Linked DNA regions of Homo sapiens. The protein of the gene in region 2 interacts with the protein of the main gene of each other region in a pairwise test. Each region holds a gene or a part of one and is shown on either strand. Other genes may lie near its edges. The genes, in order: SMO and PLPP7.

Region 1 (3,813 bases), on a different chromosome or scaffold from region 2:
TAAGAGTTAACATTTCCTGAGCGCTTACTACATGACAGGTACTGTGCCAAGGGCATTTAAAGCATTATATCACTTTTCACAGCAGTTCCATGAGGTAAATCTATCATCCCCATTTTACAGATGAGGCAACTGAGGCTAAAGATAAAGTACTTTGCCCAAGATCATACAGCCAGGAAAGAGTGGAGCCAAGATTTGGACCCAGGCTGGGCAGTTGCCATGCACATGCCCCTTACCTCTCTACTATGTTGCCTTCCCCCGAAAAGAGTGGTTACCTGTCTCTACCACCCCCAGCCTGGAAATGTGACCGGCACCCATGTTGGCTCTCACATCCTCATATTCTCTCCTAATGCAACTTCTTGCTTGGGAAATAGATATTGCTGAAGCAGGGTTGATTCAGGAAGGGCTTCTGTGATGGGCAGGGCGGAGGACTAGGCTGGGGACGGGTGCTGGGAGATTGCCGCCTGTTTCTGTCTTGCTGACAACATTTTTCCCCTCTCCGCACTGGACAGAGCCTCTTCTGTTCCTCTCCATCTGACTTCCTGCTTCCTCCTCTGGCTTTGGAGTGCCTGGCTCCTCTGACTACCTCTTCTTAAGCCCCCATCTCTTCTCTCTCACTCCGCTTGGTAAGAGGAACAAGGGTTCTGGGGTCTGGGCAAAGGGAAACATCTCCTGGCTCTAGCAAATGGGCCCCGTGAGAGTTGGGTGCACCCCTGAAAAGGTAAATCCACCCCGGGGAGCTCTACCAGAGGCATTACCACTCCCTAGCAGGGCATCTGGAAGTGGCAGTTATTTTCTTAAAACTTAAATGATAGTAAGCATACAGAATAGCGCACAGATCATGAGCTTGGTTTCCACAAGGTGAATACACTCATGTAACCAGTATCAGATCAGGAGATAGAATATTCCCAACATCCCATGTAACCAGTACCAGATCAAGAAGTAAAACATTCCCAGCAGCCCAGAGGTTCCTCTCCAGGCTCCCTTCTAGTCACCGTCCCTAGAGTAGAGGGCTGGGGCATTTTTGTTTGTCACAATCACTTCTGGGTTCTACTGGCATTGAGTTGGCAGAGTCTAGTGTCTGCAATGCATGGGACAGTCCTATGGTATAAAGAACTGTCCTGCCCAGATGCACTGTTGAGAAACACTGTACCTGCCAGGTCTGACCAGTGATGGGCTGCAGTGTGGCAAAGGCCTGGAGGACAGGGGTGAAGCTGCGTCTGTGGGTCAGAGTGAGGAGGGGCCTTCACTGCAATGCTGTTGCCACCCCCAGGCCTCCGGAATGCCCCCCGCTGCTGGGCAGTGATCCAGCCCCTGCTGTGTGCCGTATACATGCCCAAGTGTGAGAATGACCGGGTGGAGCTGCCCAGCCGTACCCTCTGCCAGGCCACCCGAGGCCCCTGTGCCATCGTGGAGAGGGAGCGGGGCTGGCCTGACTTCCTGCGCTGCACTCCTGACCGCTTCCCTGAAGGCTGCACGGTGAGTGCTCTGTGAGACAAGGTCCAGGCTCTCTGGGTTGGGCAGGACCGGGTATAGGGCAGGGTCCAGTGGGGAGCAGGGGAGCCCAGAGCTTTGTCTCCTGGAGACCCTGAGCCTACAGCCATGGGGTCAACAGGACACAAACTCAAACTGCAGCTCACTGGCTGGATCCGTCTATTAGGGATTCTCTATTTATTTATCAATGATCACATGTTCAGCAAAATGTTTTGAGCACTGGCTGTTGGGTGTTGTGGTGTTACGGGCATCACGGATGACAGGAGCCTATCAGGAAGTTTCTCATGTATGTTGGGAGTTAAGGCGCGAGCGTGTGAAACAGCTAGAGCCACCAAGACAGGGGACGTGAGCTAGTTCTGGGTGGTGCAGGAGAGGTCTTCAATGAAAATAATAACAGTAATAATGATGGTAATAATACTAATTAGTCCTGTTTACTATATGCCAAATGCCATTATAATAAGCTCATGCCTGTAATCCCAGCACTTTGGGAGGTCGAGGTGGGCAGATCACCTGAAGTCAGGAGTTCCAGACCAGCCTGGCCAACGTGGCAAAACCCTGTCTCTACTAAAAATACAAACATAAGCCTGATGTCATGGTGTGCGCCTGTAGTCCCAGCTACTCGGGAGGCTGAGACACGAGAATCGCTTGAACCCGGGAGGTGGAAGTTGCAGTGAGCTGAGATCGTGCCACTGAACTCCAGCCTGGGCTACAGAGTGAGACTCTGTCTCAAAATAAATAAATAAATAAATAGGCTGGCCAGACACAGTGGCTCATGCCTGTTATCCCCACCACTTTGGAAGGCTGAGGCGGGTGGATCACTTGATGAGGTCAGAAGTTCAAGACCAGCCTGACCAACATGGTGAAACTCCGTCTCTACTAAAAATACAAAAAATTAGCCAGACATGGTGGTGGGCACCTGTATTCTCAGCTACTTGGGAGGCTGAGGCAGTAGAATCGCTTGAACCCGGGAGGTGGAGGTTGCAGTGAGCCAAGATTGTGCCATTGCACTGCAGCCTGGGCGACAGAGCCAGACTCTGTCTCTCTCTTTCTATATATATAATATATGTTTATTCATTTAACCCTTAAACCATACCATAAGGTAAGTACTACCATCTTAGAAATGGGGAAACTGGCCGGGCGCAGTGGCTCACGCCTGTAATCCCAGCACTTTGGGAGGCCGAGGTGGGTGGATCATGAGGTCAGGAGTTCAAGACCAGCCTGGCCAACCTGGTGAAACCCCGTCTAAAATACAAAATTTAGCCGGGTGTGGTGGTGGGCGCCTGTAGTCCCAGCTACTCGGGAGTCTGAGGCAGGAGAATTGCCCGGGAGGCAGAGGTTGCAGTGAGCTGAGATCACGCCACTGCACTCCAGCCTGGGCGACAGAGCGAGACTGTCTAAAAAAAGAAAGAAAAAAAGAAAGAAAGAAGTGGGGAAACTGAGGTACAGAGAGGCCAAATAATTTGCCAAGCCAGCCCTGGGATTCAGGTCCTGGAAGTGTATCTCCAGCCACCCTGCCATGCTACCTAGATACCTTTCCCTAAACAAGAGGCTCGTCCCTGAGCTGCCTTGACACCGTCTTTTCCCATCCCTGGTGCCAGAATGAGGTGCAGAACATCAAGTTCAACAGTTCAGGCCAGTGCGAAGTGCCCTTGGTTCGGACAGACAACCCCAAGAGCTGGTACGAGGACGTGGAGGGCTGCGGCATCCAGTGCCAGAACCCGCTCTTCACAGAGGCTGAGCACCAGGACATGCACAGCTACATCGCGGCCTTCGGGGCCGTCACGGGCCTCTGCACGCTCTTCACCCTGGTCAGCCGCGGGAGGGCAGGCCCGGGGGGCCCTCAGCCTGGAACGTGGGAAGAGAGCCAGAGGGAAGGGGGGCAAAGAGGTCTTGGTGGGGGTCCCCAGGGAAGGGTCATGATCAGAAGGGTCTGGGGCTCAGTTAAGGGTGTCTGTGTCAGCAGAATAACCCTAACCTCACAGAATGGCCCACTTCTCTCTTCTAGGCCACATTCGTGGCTGACTGGCGGAACTCGAATCGCTACCCTGCTGTTATTCTCTTCTACGTCAATGCGTGCTTCTTTGTGGGCAGCATTGGCTGGCTGGCCCAGTTCATGGATGGTGCCCGCCGAGAGATCGTCTGCCGTGCAGATGGCACCATGAGGCTTGGGGAGCCCACGTAGGTGTCTTGGGGACCCAGAGGTGAAGGTACAGGGAGGAAGGCTGAAGTGTGCGTTTACCCCAAAGGGAGCAGGTGCGTGTAAAACCGAGATCCAGGGCAGGATCTGGCTCTGCCCTACTGCATACTGCATGCAAGATCTCC
Region 2 (3,352 bases):
CCAAGCCTCCTGCCGATCTGTGATAGGACCTGGGGGCTCTTGCCTCCTGGCCCTCACCCCTTTCCTCCCTCTGCCTAGAACATTCTTCCCCTCCTTCCTGGCTCCCTCCACCCATTCCCTCCATCTGGGCTCAGACTTCCCCCTTCTGGGACCTATGCGCTGATGCCCCAAGGCTGGGCTCCAGGGCCTTTTCTCTGAGCCCTCACTGCCCTGCACATCCCTCGCGGCAGCTCTCTTAGGCTTGGCTGTGTTTCACTGGTCACTTGCCTACTTCCTGGCGGACGAGGATCAGGTTAGCCAGGAGTCGGGGCGGAGGGCTTGGGAAGGCCTGAGGCTGAAGTGAGAGAGGGTCTCTGGTCCATCAGCATCACAGTGAGGGCCTCTCAAACGGTCCCTGCCCAGGCCCCAGGTAGCAGCCAGCACAGGGCCTGGGGGCTGAGGGAGTACCAGGCAGCCACCCCAGGGCAAAGGGACTGGCCAGCCTGGTAAAGTCCAGGAGCAGACCAGCTGTGCCCAGAGCCCCCGATCCCTGGCATCATGGCACTGTCTAGGGCCGAAGAATTACCCCACCCCTCCGCCCGTTCCATGTTAATAAGGTGAATGCATCCAGAGCAATTGAATTGCATGAGGAAAAAGCCACACGGGAGAGGGCCATTTGCATGTCATCTGTATTGTCACATGAAATGCACATCCAAAACGGGTGACTTGGAAACGACCTATTAGGTCACACGGAGTCCGGCCCCTGGGGGCCAAAGCCTCATCGATGCCCACGGGCGGTGGCCAGCACTTTCCTCGGGCTGTGGCGTGTGCACCCGGCCTCCCCAGAGGAGAGTCAGCTCACACCCCAGGCCCTTTAGCTCTCTGGCAGCAGCTCCCAAAACGCACTTGAGGAACCAATAATTCCTTGGGGGTTAATAGCTGTTCCCCAAGAAAAGGGTTCTGTGGTCAAATAAGTTTAGAAAACATGGGTTAAAGAAGGTTTAGCAAGAAGCTTTTCTATAGGGCTTGTCAGAGCCTTTACGGCAATAACGGCCTTTGTGAATGTCCAACTTGGGGACAGAGTGTGCAGCACTTCCGAAAGTTATTGAACCACAAAACCCCTTTCCCCCAAAAGCATCTCGCAGGCTGGTGTCCCATGGGCACCCGTTGGAAAGTGCTGCCCTAAGCTGTCGATGACCGCTAATGGCAATGGCACCTGCATCAGGCAGTAGGTTGGGGGCATTTTGGCAGGCGTCGTGCTGTGGCGTGATGGGCACAGCCAAGAACTCAACAGTCATGATGATGAAAGGACAAGACAAGACTCGGCCCCTCCCACCATCCTGATTTTTGCTGTTCCCAGAGCAGAAGCTAAATAGGGCTGTCCCCATGGGTGGGTCCTGGCTGCCTAGAGAGGAGACTTGGAGTCCAAGCAAAGGGGCAAGAGGCCTGGCACTGCCAAACACGCTTGTCTCCGGGAGGGGTGGCCTGGGTTCGCCAGCCTCCAGCCAGGAGGGGAAGATGAGGTGGGGGTGGCCGCTCTGACTCCTGGCCGCTCTGTTCCACCCACGCCCGCCACCTCGCCACCCCCTGCCCCTTCTCTAGGGCCAGCCCTGCCCCCAGAGGCTTGTGTGGGCCGGCGGGCGCTTCACCAGGCAGAGATGAGCATCTGGCAGGTGCTGGAGGGCATCCAGACCAGCTCCACCAGACGGAACTGGAGGTAGCCGATGACAAAGCCGGAGAGGACGTCCGTGACGTGGTGGCGGCCGATCATCACGCGGGACAGGCCCACGCAGAGGGCCCAGAGCACCAGCAGCACACGCAGGGGCACCGCCAGCACCAGGTGGCTGAGGAAGAACTTGGACACCATGGCGGCGCGGCTGGCGTGCCCGGCCGGGAAGGCGTAGATGTCCATGGTGAGGTAGTCCAGGAGGCTGGGGCTCGTCTCGTACGGGCCGCGCCGCTTGATGAGCTTCTGCACGCCGGCCACCGTCATGATGTCCAGGAGCAGGGCTGTTGGGGGGAGACAGAGGCCCCTGGGCCATCAGGGCCACCAGCCAGGCCCAGGCCCTGGCCCCCCACATTTCCACCTCGCCTCCCCTTTCTGCTCCTCACTCAGGCCACTCAGCCACACTGACCCCCAGGCAGGGTCCCCTCTCAGGCTGTTGCCTTTGCTGTCTCCCCTGCCCGGCACATCCTGCCTTCCTGTAGCTACTTCCTTTAGCGGAGAAGCCTTCCCTGACCACGCTGTTTGTAAAAAGCCCCCACCACGCTGTCTCCCCTCACCTTGTTTAATTTTTTCATACAGCTTTTCTCATGCCCTGACATAATACGCATTTTATTTCTTTGGGTTTTTTTTTTTTTTTTTTTTTTTTTTTTTTTTTGAGACAGAGTTTCACTTTGTCAACCAGGCTGGAGTGCAGAGGTGAGATCTTGGCTCACTGGAACCTCCGCCTCCCGGATTCAAGCGATTCTCCTGCCTCGGCCTCCTGAGTAGCTGGGATTACAGGCACCCACCACCACGTCCAGCTAATTTTTGTACTTTCAGTAGAGATGGGGCTTTGCCATGTTGGACAGACTGGTCTCAAACTCCTGACCTCAGGTGATCCACCCGCCTCAGCCTCCCATTGTGCTGGGATTACAGGTATGAGCCACTGCGCCCGGCCCTTTTTCCTTTTTTTTTTTTTTTTGATACAGGGTCTTGCTCTATTGCCCAGGCTGTAGTGCAGTGGCCTGATCTTGGCTCACTGCAACCTCCACCTCCTGGGTTCAAGGAATTCTCATACTTCAGCCTCCCGAGTAGCTGGGATTACAGGTGCACACTACCATGCTTGGCTAATTTTTTGTATTTTTGGTAGAGATGGGGTTTTGCCATGTTGGCCAGGCTGGTCTCCAACTCCTGGCCTCAGGTGACCTGCCCGCCTCAGCCTCCCCAAGTGTTCACCCATTACAGGCGTGAGCCACTGTGCCCAGCCCCATTCCCATTTTTCAAAAATTGAAGCAAAATTTACATCTTGTACAGTGAACCATTTTAGAGTGCACGCTTCAGCGGCATTCAGCACATCACAATGTCAGCAGCCACCTCCTCTCTCTAATTTCAAAACATTTCATCATCCCAAAAGAATGCCCCATACCCACGAAGCAGCCACTCCCCATCCCCTTCTCTCCAGCCCCTGGGACACCACCAATCTGCTTTCCTCTAGAGGATTTGCCTCCTCTAGACACTCCATGTAAATGGAATCAGACAGCATGTGGCCTTTTGTGTCTGCCTTCCTTTCCTTAGCATAATGTTTCCAGCATCCACCCATGTGGCAGCGCTTCATTCCTTTTCATGGCCGAATAATATTCCACTGTATGGATGGACCACTATTTGTTC

What was found.
Region 1: the proteins of PLPP7 (region 2) and SMO interact in a two-hybrid assay, tested with the Homo sapiens proteins (one large-scale study listed by BioGRID and IntAct).

The regions. Positions count from the first base shown.
Region 1 is NC_000007.14:129,202,114-129,205,926, forward strand, and holds part of SMO (protein smoothened precursor), read left to right. Parts: intron 1-509; exon of another isoform or gene 510-623; intron 624-1,270; coding exon 1,271-1,476; intron 1,477-3,089; coding exon 3,090-3,299; intron 3,300-3,496; coding exon 3,497-3,669; intron 3,670-3,813. UniProt on the Homo sapiens protein: G protein-coupled receptor which associates with the patched protein (PTCH) to transduce hedgehog protein signaling. Binding of sonic hedgehog (SHH) to its receptor patched prevents inhibition of smoothened (SMO) by patched.
Region 2 is NC_000009.12:131,306,560-131,309,911, reverse strand, and holds the end of PLPP7 (inactive phospholipid phosphatase 7), read right to left. Parts: intron 1,990-3,352; coding exon 1,625-1,989; 3' UTR 651-1,624; downstream 1-650. UniProt on the Homo sapiens protein: Plays a role as negative regulator of myoblast differentiation, in part through effects on MTOR signaling. Has no detectable enzymatic activity.